2 separate regions of the Homo sapiens genome follow, and region 1 is linked to region 2. The links come from fine-mapping of genetic effects on gene expression. A gene starts in region 2. The other region holds a variant in brackets. All regions are shown on one strand. Distances are between the middles of the regions. Region 1 overlaps PAX3 (paired box 3). Region 2 holds the start of PAX3 (paired box 3).

What was found. PIP is the estimated chance that this variant, and not a neighbour inherited with it, causes the effect.
Region 1: its variant is fine-mapped to the expression of PAX3 in subcutaneous fat (TwinsUK, PIP 0.95).

Annotation. Positions count from the first base shown.
Region 1 is chr2:222,267,065-222,271,452 of GRCh38, reverse strand. All of the region lies in intron 4 of PAX3 (paired box 3), which reads left to right. Among named protein-coding and RNA genes, the nearest start is that of CCDC140, 29 kb to the left of the region's middle. The variant G/T (reference allele first, on the strand shown) is at 2,664.
Region 2 is chr2:222,296,964-222,301,282 of GRCh38, reverse strand. PAX3 (paired box 3) reads left to right here and starts at 2,285. Exons shown (of 9, transcript NM_181458.4): 1 at 2,285-2,752; 2 at 4,070-4,305. The coding sequence starts at 2,668. It overlaps CCDC140 (CCDC140 long non-coding RNA), which reads right to left and starts at 3,136. Exons shown (of 2, transcript NR_161172.1): 1 at 2,910-3,136. RefSeq lists cis regulatory regions at 1,105-1,659, 2,230-2,267 and a promoter at 1,654-2,685.

The sequences.
Region 1 (4,388 bases), 30 kb after region 2:
AGCATCACCATTATTACTATGTTTGGGATGGAACTTGTCACAGTTATATTTACATGACCATAGCATCCTGAGGAAGCATTGCAATATGTGTTCCAAACATTTTTCTTGTGTCTTGTTGAGCTGGATTTGCAGAGGTCTTGAAGTTTATTCCACTTACGGATTTTGGTAAAGAATCCATAGGACATCAGGCTGCCCAGGTCTAGTTCTACACCAGATATAACCATGGCTTTATGAAAGGCTTTGGGGTTAAGAGATTTGTCCTGGTTCACTCTCTGAATAGTTGTGATCATGGAAAAGTCACTATGTGTTCTGAGCTGGAGTCCTTTTCAATGTAGGCGATAATATTTGCTCCACTACCTCAAAGGATTGTTGTGTTAGTGACCGCGAACACATCAGAAGTCCTGAGCAAATATAAAGTATTATTTACTTAGAATCTGTTGATTCCTTTTGTACTCATTGAAACAAGGTTTGGTAGCTGATTGATTTGCCTTCTTGCTGTCTCAGAGTGCAGTTTAACAAGGATTAAGTGGATCTTCCTGTGGTCAGTCTAAAATAGACAGAACTAATTCTATATCTAGGACATAAGGGACCTAGTTACTGGGATAACATTGCTTTATTGCAAAGCAGCACACCGCTGCATATCTAGTGAAAGACTAGTATGGGAGAAACTGCTTTTAAGGGTTTGGATTTGGGCAAAATAAGTCTTTTGATTTTCACATTGTTCTGATGTCTGTTGGCTCATGTCACAAGATTGGAAGGCCCAGCAGGCCAGGAAGGAGTTTCTCTGGAAGGAGTTGGAGATTTATGCAGATTGGCTGGCTCTCTGACATTTATTTGCTGCCCTTTTTCACTCTATTTTGGCAACTCTGAACCAGATGGATAAGCTCATGGAAAATAAGGCCAGTGAGGAGAAGATGCTTTTGATTTCCCTGAAGATAAGGGAAACCTCTCTCTTTTTCTCTTTCTTTTAACTTAGCAGCGACAATTTTATTGCACGAATGCAAAATTGGCAACTCACTTTTGGAGACCGATGGAAACATCTGAACAAGGACCTCCCTTGTACGTCATTGAGGGTAACATAAACTCTGTTTACCAAAGCATCCAGTGAGGGGAGAGAAGCCCTGACAATGGTCTGAATGTTATGTCTACCAGGAGGCCAACGGTTCAGTTTGTAGCTGAGCACCAAGGATGCTAGTCGGAGCTTGAGCTAAGATGATAATTCACCAGGACTGAAATCCTTCTTTAATCATCAACCTCTCTGCAAGGAGAATGATGAAGAGGGGAAACAGGGCTTACTATTTCACTCTGTAATCATTTATGATTTGAGCTGTATTTTACCTTGTGTTGACCTCTGGTGCTGTTGGTTTGCTCATTCTATAGCCTCAGCTACAGTGTTGCAAGGGGACAATGCAGACAGTGGCCACTGCATGGTGATTTCTTTGTAAGAAATGGAAAAATATTATCTAAATGTGTAGATAGAGAGATACAGTTTTACTATTTTAGGCTCGAACTAAATTCTTTCTACTAAAAGAATTAAGTGTTTAAGCACAAATGTTCATTTCAAAAGTAATTATGTCTTGAGCTCACTAGCACATTTTTTGTGAAGGTGGCATTTTTTCCTTCTATGTTAAAGTCATCACATTTTCCCTCTGTGCTACCCATGGCACACAATTTCAAACTGAAAATACTTTATCTCGGCATATTGTTGAACTTTGCCCTTGGAATTTAAATGTTGAAATATGGTATTAAAAATGGTGAAGGGATTTGCTGATTAAGTACGACTTTTTTTTTTTTTTATGGAAAGGTGGGAGAGAAATGTGCAGCTTGAGAATTTAGCCTTATTATTTATTTTATGTTGTCGTTGTTTGTAGACTTTTAAAAAAATTTGTTTACTCTTGTTTGTTTGCACTAATCACTACTTAAGGAAAAGTAAGTCACAGGCCAGCCTCCTCTTCACGAAGCCTTTAGCCATGGTGACCGTTCAGGCATAAAAACGTGCTTATCTGCAAATGAATGGCAGCTCTTTGCTTCATTAAAGCCCCTTTCTCTTTTGGCACTCGCATTGTGACCCTTTGATATTAATTCAAAGGGCAATTAAAGAATGCGGGCCATCTTTGAAGTAAGGCATTCAGGGCAAGGGTAGGGACGAACCTGGGCCTCTGATGGACTGTGCGCATTCAACAGGCCTTTTCAAGGCAGTTTGAAGTGAGTCAAAGAAAATGGGCAGGAGAAGGTCAAAGAGAAAAAAGGGGCTAAAGAAACAGTCCGTATTTGTTCGGAGTATTAGCCAAGAAAACTGCAAATAGCAACAAAATGAAACAGTTAATAGAGCAGCCAGACAGGGCCATGTCAATCACTTAACTTGAACAGCGTTAGGCTTACCAAGGCTCCTCCACTGTGTTACCTAATTATCTTGGGAAAAGCAGTAACTGGAAGTAATGGTATTGTATTTCTTTCTGCCTACTGCCCAGAAAAGGTGATAAATACTCACTGCTCCATAATTATGCAACATATATACATAAAGGAGTAGGAGGGGGTGGAAGAGGGCTGGGGGCTCGGAGACTGCCTTGAAGTCGGGTTCCTAGTAAAACGTCTGAATATGGCACAAATATGGCATTTTCAAACATTAGCATGCTGGAGAATCGCTTAACTCGTTTCATCTG[G/T]AGCTGGCTGAAATATGCATGATCTCTCCTGGAACAACTCTTAAAGACAAACACGCTTACTCATCTAGGAAAGTTCTCGTTGAGAAAAAATAAAATAGCCTGCAAGAGCTGTGCTCAAATAATATGAAGGATTTGGCGAACACTCCCCTCTGCCCCCCAACCCCCCGTGGAAACGAGGAGATTCAGAGTGAGGTAGGAAACTCAGCTCTTTGCTTTCCCCGTTGTGCCTGGTTATTGAAACACCCTTGGGGAGAGGCAACCGGAAAGCCCTCCGTGGTAACCGCATAGCCACAGCGAGTTGCATATGTTACCTAGAGAGCAGGCGGATAGTAGGTAGGGCTGGGGGGGTTGATTGGATATTTGATTGCTTTCTATTAGTGTGGTTAGGATGGATATTTTTGGATTCCACTTCTATTGGTCATGATAAAAAGCAAAAAAACAACAGAAGCCAAGCACTTCTTTGAAAGTGTGAGCAAACCGGTTGAAAAACTATTTCCAGATTCCCCCAAGGGTGTATGGGTAAGGGAGGAGGAACCCAGGCACGCACATACATGTCTGCAGATAGGTCGAATATGTGTTTGTAATTGCAAAACATGACCAGCCTTTAAAGAGGCCCCCAGGACTCTGCTCAGATTATTTGCAATATGGGCTGCTACAGATTGTTGTTTGATGTTGCATTTGTGCATAACAGGTTTTGTTTGGAGGGACAGTAATAGATCTAAAGGATCTGTTATGCAGCTTTTTGACATACTGTTACAGAATGTAGCTATTAATATAAAAGTTATGGCCTTTGTAAAAAGTCCATTATTGAACTAAGTACTCAGTTGCTCTGCATTTTAACAAAACAGTCATATACTGATGCTTGAAAACTTTCCTTTTCTTAAAAAATTCCAATTTGCCAGTCACCCAGGGTAAGTCGTATATAATACGACGAATCACAAATTATATGATTTTTAAAAAACATATTAGCAACTTCAGCTACTCAGTAGGATCAACCAATAAATTATGCCTTCTGCCTCGTTTAATGGTACAGCAGAACAATGTTTGAGTGGTTAGGGGGTGTCACTATCTCAGAGACAGTCAATAGAGCAGTAGCTGCTTAACTAAACAGGAATCACGTTGGTGGCATTGCAAATTTCCTTAGGTGTCTTGGGAAAAAATACCACAAAATGTCCCAAATAATAATAAAAATGTAATTTACAGTAAATTATAAAATAAGGGGAAACTCAAGTAATAGAATAAGCTAGGATACTTTTACCAATAGTAAGCAGTAACTCTCTTCCACTTACAGAAAGAATAGATTTTTTTGCAATAATTTTGAAAAAGTGTTTTATTTAAAAAAATACATAGCATATTTTGATGCCTTTTGAAAGGGTGACTAAAAGTCATATATCTGGAAAGATTAGGAAGTGTCCATCATCTTATAATACTGAAAATATTGATGTACCTTGTAGCTCACAATCAGTGACGTGCAAAGGGAAATATGGAGTACTTTTTAATTGTATTCCTCCTCATACCTCCTTGGTGACTTGCAGATTTTCATCAACTTTTGTCCTTCTAGTCTCTTTTTTCTTACTCCTTTTCCATGCAACTCAAAAATGTGTGCTATGAGGAGTGAAGGCTGGGGAACAGTGGTGAGAGAGAACACTTTGAGTTACTTTTTGTCTCCCATTTTAACTTTTCCCACCTTCTTGAACTATCAGTTAGAATCATGTGCAATCTCCG
Region 2 (4,319 bases):
GAGCTTTAGGTCCCCAGCACCCCCACATCCTTGTGGCCTCCATTTGTACATGTTTATAGCAAGTGACAGCTAGTTTATGAACCCATGGGCACTTAAGACCCAGCTCAGCCGGCAGTACCTCCGTTCAACGGTCCCGCGGACTCTGCAATCTACGGGACCGGGAGAAGGAATCTTGCAGCAAGCGCTTCCCTCCAGCATCTGCCGGCTCTTAGGAGAGAAAACTCCCGGCAGGAGAGAGACGGGTGGACGCTGGGAGGGCTTGGAGACCAAGCCTCCGGCTCAAAAACAAATGAGACTCAGCTCTAGATGTTCTTTAACTGCTCGCGGGGTCCAAGAGTTTATTTTAGCTGAGAGTTGAGCCTACTTTTGCCTTCTTGAAATTACACTTCTGGTACCTCCTTCACACAGCAATTACCGCTGACCCCAGAAAGTGCTCTGTCGACTCTGCTTAACCTTTGGGAAGAAGAAAACTTGGAAAAAGTCTAGCTCTCAAAATGCTATCGCTGAGAAGTGGCTTAAAACGTACGGACACAGGCTTTGGTGGCCCCAACGCCTTAAAAAGAAAATGAGAAAATTTTCCCCTTGAAAAATTGAATCATTTAATGTAAAACCAGGTTAAACAAGGCACATGCCTCCTTCATGGGTCCAGACATTTCTGGGAGTCTCCTGAGACCTGTCTCCGTGGCTCTGAGGGTCAACCAAGCCTTCTGGCATCAGGCAGGCTGAAAGCTTGCCTGGTTTCCCCAATGGTGAGTGGGTTTTTAAAGGGCCAACTTGTGGACTGCTGAGCGGCTATACCCCACACCCCCCTACATCTTGCCTTCTGAGTTTGCCTTAATTAGGGAATGGGGAAGTAGGGTTGGGGGCCCGAGTTCACGTCAAAACTGTCAAAGGAGGTGGGGGAGGGGGACAGAGAGAGAGGAGTGGAGAACTCCCTCCAGGGGCAGGAAAAATTCAAAAATCATAAAAGGAAAAGGGGGAACTTGAAGCCCAGAAGTCATTGTTTCCTTTATTTCAAAGGGAAAAACCTGCCCGATTCTCATCCTTTTGATTGATTAAGGCCCTGAATACCTCGCGGCCCCGGAGTGACAGTCCCTGAATAGGCTCGAGCGAATAAAGCGCAGTGCAGAGCGCGGGGCTGGCACTCGGGGGTGTAAAGGAGGCGAGTTCGCTGGCACTTACCAAGTTATAAATAAAAGGCTATGCACAATGGTACCTTCTCTAAGGACAGACAGTCTTTACAACACTCCTGGCGTCATATCCTGCTGGGGACACTTCAGCTCCTAGCCAAGACTTCGTTCCTTTTATTTTTCCAGCAGTTTAGTCTGAATGCCATAATAAATTCCTGAGAACAAACGCTGAACCCGGGCAAAACTTTAACATACAGACACATCTCTGTCGACGCATCGGGGATCTATATGTAGAGATTTAGAACCGCAGCTTGCCAGAGCGGTTTTTACACCAAGAAGAGGAGCCAGGTTTTTTTCTGCACCCTCCCCCATACCCCCAGCCTTCAACTAACGAGTGCTTGGGCCTAGCGACGGCTGCCTGTGCTTCACATTAGCCCCGCTTGCGGACGGAGAAGACAAAAGAACATCAGCGCACCCTGGACTCCTCCCAGGAGGAGCCCCATCGGGAGGACCCCTTAACAAGCCTAGGCCAAGGGGCACTGACCACAGGAAGGAAAGCTAAATATGTCTGGGGCCCCAGATGCCTTCTTATTGGAATTGTGCCCCCTCCAGTGGCAGTAAGCCAAGAGAAATGAGAGCGAGACCTACAGGTAGAAAAAATGAGACATAGAGAGAGACACAGGAAATCACAAGAGGAATAGAGGCTGAGCGAGACACACACACAGAGGCACAGAAAGAGACAGAGAGGGAAATAGAAAGTCAAGGAAAGAGTGATCAGAGAAAGACACACACACACACACACACACACACACACACACACACACACACACACACAGAGTGACACAGACAGAGAGACAGAGACAGAGAGACAGGAACTTCTCCGCCCTCAGCAACTGCCATCTCCCTGGGGCTGTCTCTCTCAGTTTCCACCGGGCCAACCTTCTCTCCTGGGCAAGGGGCGCAGCGCGGGTCCCCCTCGGGGCCAGCAGAGGCCTCGGCACCACCAGAGATGGGAAGAGAAAGTGGTCGCTGTTGCCCAATCAGCGCGTGTCTCCGCCACCCGGGACGGTCTACCCGTCGGCCAATCGCAGCTCAGGGCTCCTGACCAAGCTTTGGGTAAAAGAACTAATAAATGCTCCCGAGCCCGGATCCCCGCACTCGGTGTCACCACAGGAGGAGACTCAGGCAGGCCGCGCTCCAGCCTCACCAGGCTCCCCGGCTCGCCGTGGCTCTCTGAGCCCCCTTTTCAGGGACCCCAGTCGCTGGAACATTTGCCCAGACTCGTACCAAACTTTTCCGCCCTGGGCTCGGGATCCTGGACTCCGGGGCCTCCCCGTCCTCCCCTTTCCCGGGTTCCAGCTCCGGCCTCTGGACTAGGAACCGACAGCCCCCCTCCCCGCGTCCCTCCCTCTCTCTCCAGCCGTTTTGGGGAGGGGCTCTCCACGCTCCGGATAGTTCCCGAGGGTCATCCGCGCCGCACTCGCCTTTCCGTTTCGCCTTCACCTGGATATAATTTCCGAGCGAAGCTGCCCCCAGGATGACCACGCTGGCCGGCGCTGTGCCCAGGATGATGCGGCCGGGCCCGGGGCAGAACTACCCGCGTAGCGGGTTCCCGCTGGAAGGTAAGGGAGGGCCTCAGCGCGCCGCCTGGATCCCAGGGCCTGGGACCGGCTGCCTCACCCCATCCCCAGGCTCCGCAGGCTCCTTTGGTGCTTCCAGGAAGCCCATTCCCTGGGCACCCCACACCCCAAGAAGCACCAGTCGGGGGCGAGGACCTACTCGATTTCCTTTCTGCAAATGGAGCGCGCTGCTCTCTGCAAATCCTGGCGGAGCTGGGCGGTCAGGCCTGCGGCGAGCCGGGGAGACTTGTCCCTGTTGTTTTGGAAATGCCGCGGTGGAGAAGGAGGTGAACCGGCTTCTGAGCGGCAGAAGCAACTTCTCCGCAATTTGTCCATTCGAAATTGTCTCGAAGTTGTCTCGAAATTGTCCCGGCTGCGCCCACACTTGTGAAACATATGTTAGTTCAGGAAGTATTTTTTTTTTTTTGCCCTGCAAAGTTGTGGTGGCTAACGCCGCGCCATTGTGATTGGAATTTTTAGAATAATTAAATAAATTAGAATTCTATGTATCTCAAATAGCATCTAGAAGTTTCTATAACTTGTTTAGGAATCGCCTTTCCGTCCACTTGAAGATTCTGGGAATCCCGGGGAGGCAGGAAGTCTTGCAAGCCTGAGCCGTTTTCAATGGTTTTCCAGGTTAGGGCGCCCCAGCAGAGATGCTCATCGCCCCCGCCACCCACTCCCTTCACACCCAGCCTAGAGTAGAATGTAACACCCAGAGCAAGAATGGGGGCTGGGGGCCCAGGAACAGCCCTGCCGCTGCTGTGGTCTCTGTCCCAAGATGTAACAGGTGACACAGGCACTGCTGCTTGGGCCTCCTTTCTGGACCCTCTTTGACCCTTGGCTGCTGCACTTTTGGCTAGAAACCCCAAGGGCTATCAGCTGGCCCAAGTCCCTTAGAAAGGGAGAGATCCCAATTGGACAGGGATCGGTGGGAGCAGAGTTCATCAAGGCCAGCTCCTGGGTGAACTTCTCTTCGCCAGGAGGCTGTTTCTAGAGCAAGCTAGACTCTCTACCAGCTGCAGGGTCTCCTAAGTTGCCACTCCCCGGGCCCGAAGGGGAAGACGCTTTCTCTGGGGAGAATTATTTTGCCCCATTTGCTGTCTTTACACAAGATTACATGCGCTATATTGCTGAATAATTTGAACAAATGTGATTGAAAGGAGGTCTGGGTCTGGGAGTCCGATGTCGAGCAGTTTCAGCGTCGGTGCTGTAACATGAGGATAGGACAGAAGACTGCGAAATTACGTGCTGCTGTTCTTTGCTTTTTATTTTCCTCCAGTGACTTTTCCCTTGCTTCTCTTTTTCACCTTCCCACAGTGTCCACTCCCCTCGGCCAGGGCCGCGTCAACCAGCTCGGCGGTGTTTTTATCAACGGCAGGCCGCTGCCCAACCACATCCGCCACAAGATCGTGGAGATGGCCCACCACGGCATCCGGCCCTGCGTCATCTCGCGCCAGCTGCGCGTGTCCCACGGCTGCGTCTCCAAGATCCTGTGCAGGTACCAGGAGACTGGCTCCATACGTCCTGGTGCCATCGGCGGCAGCAAGCCCAAGGTGAGCGGGCGGGC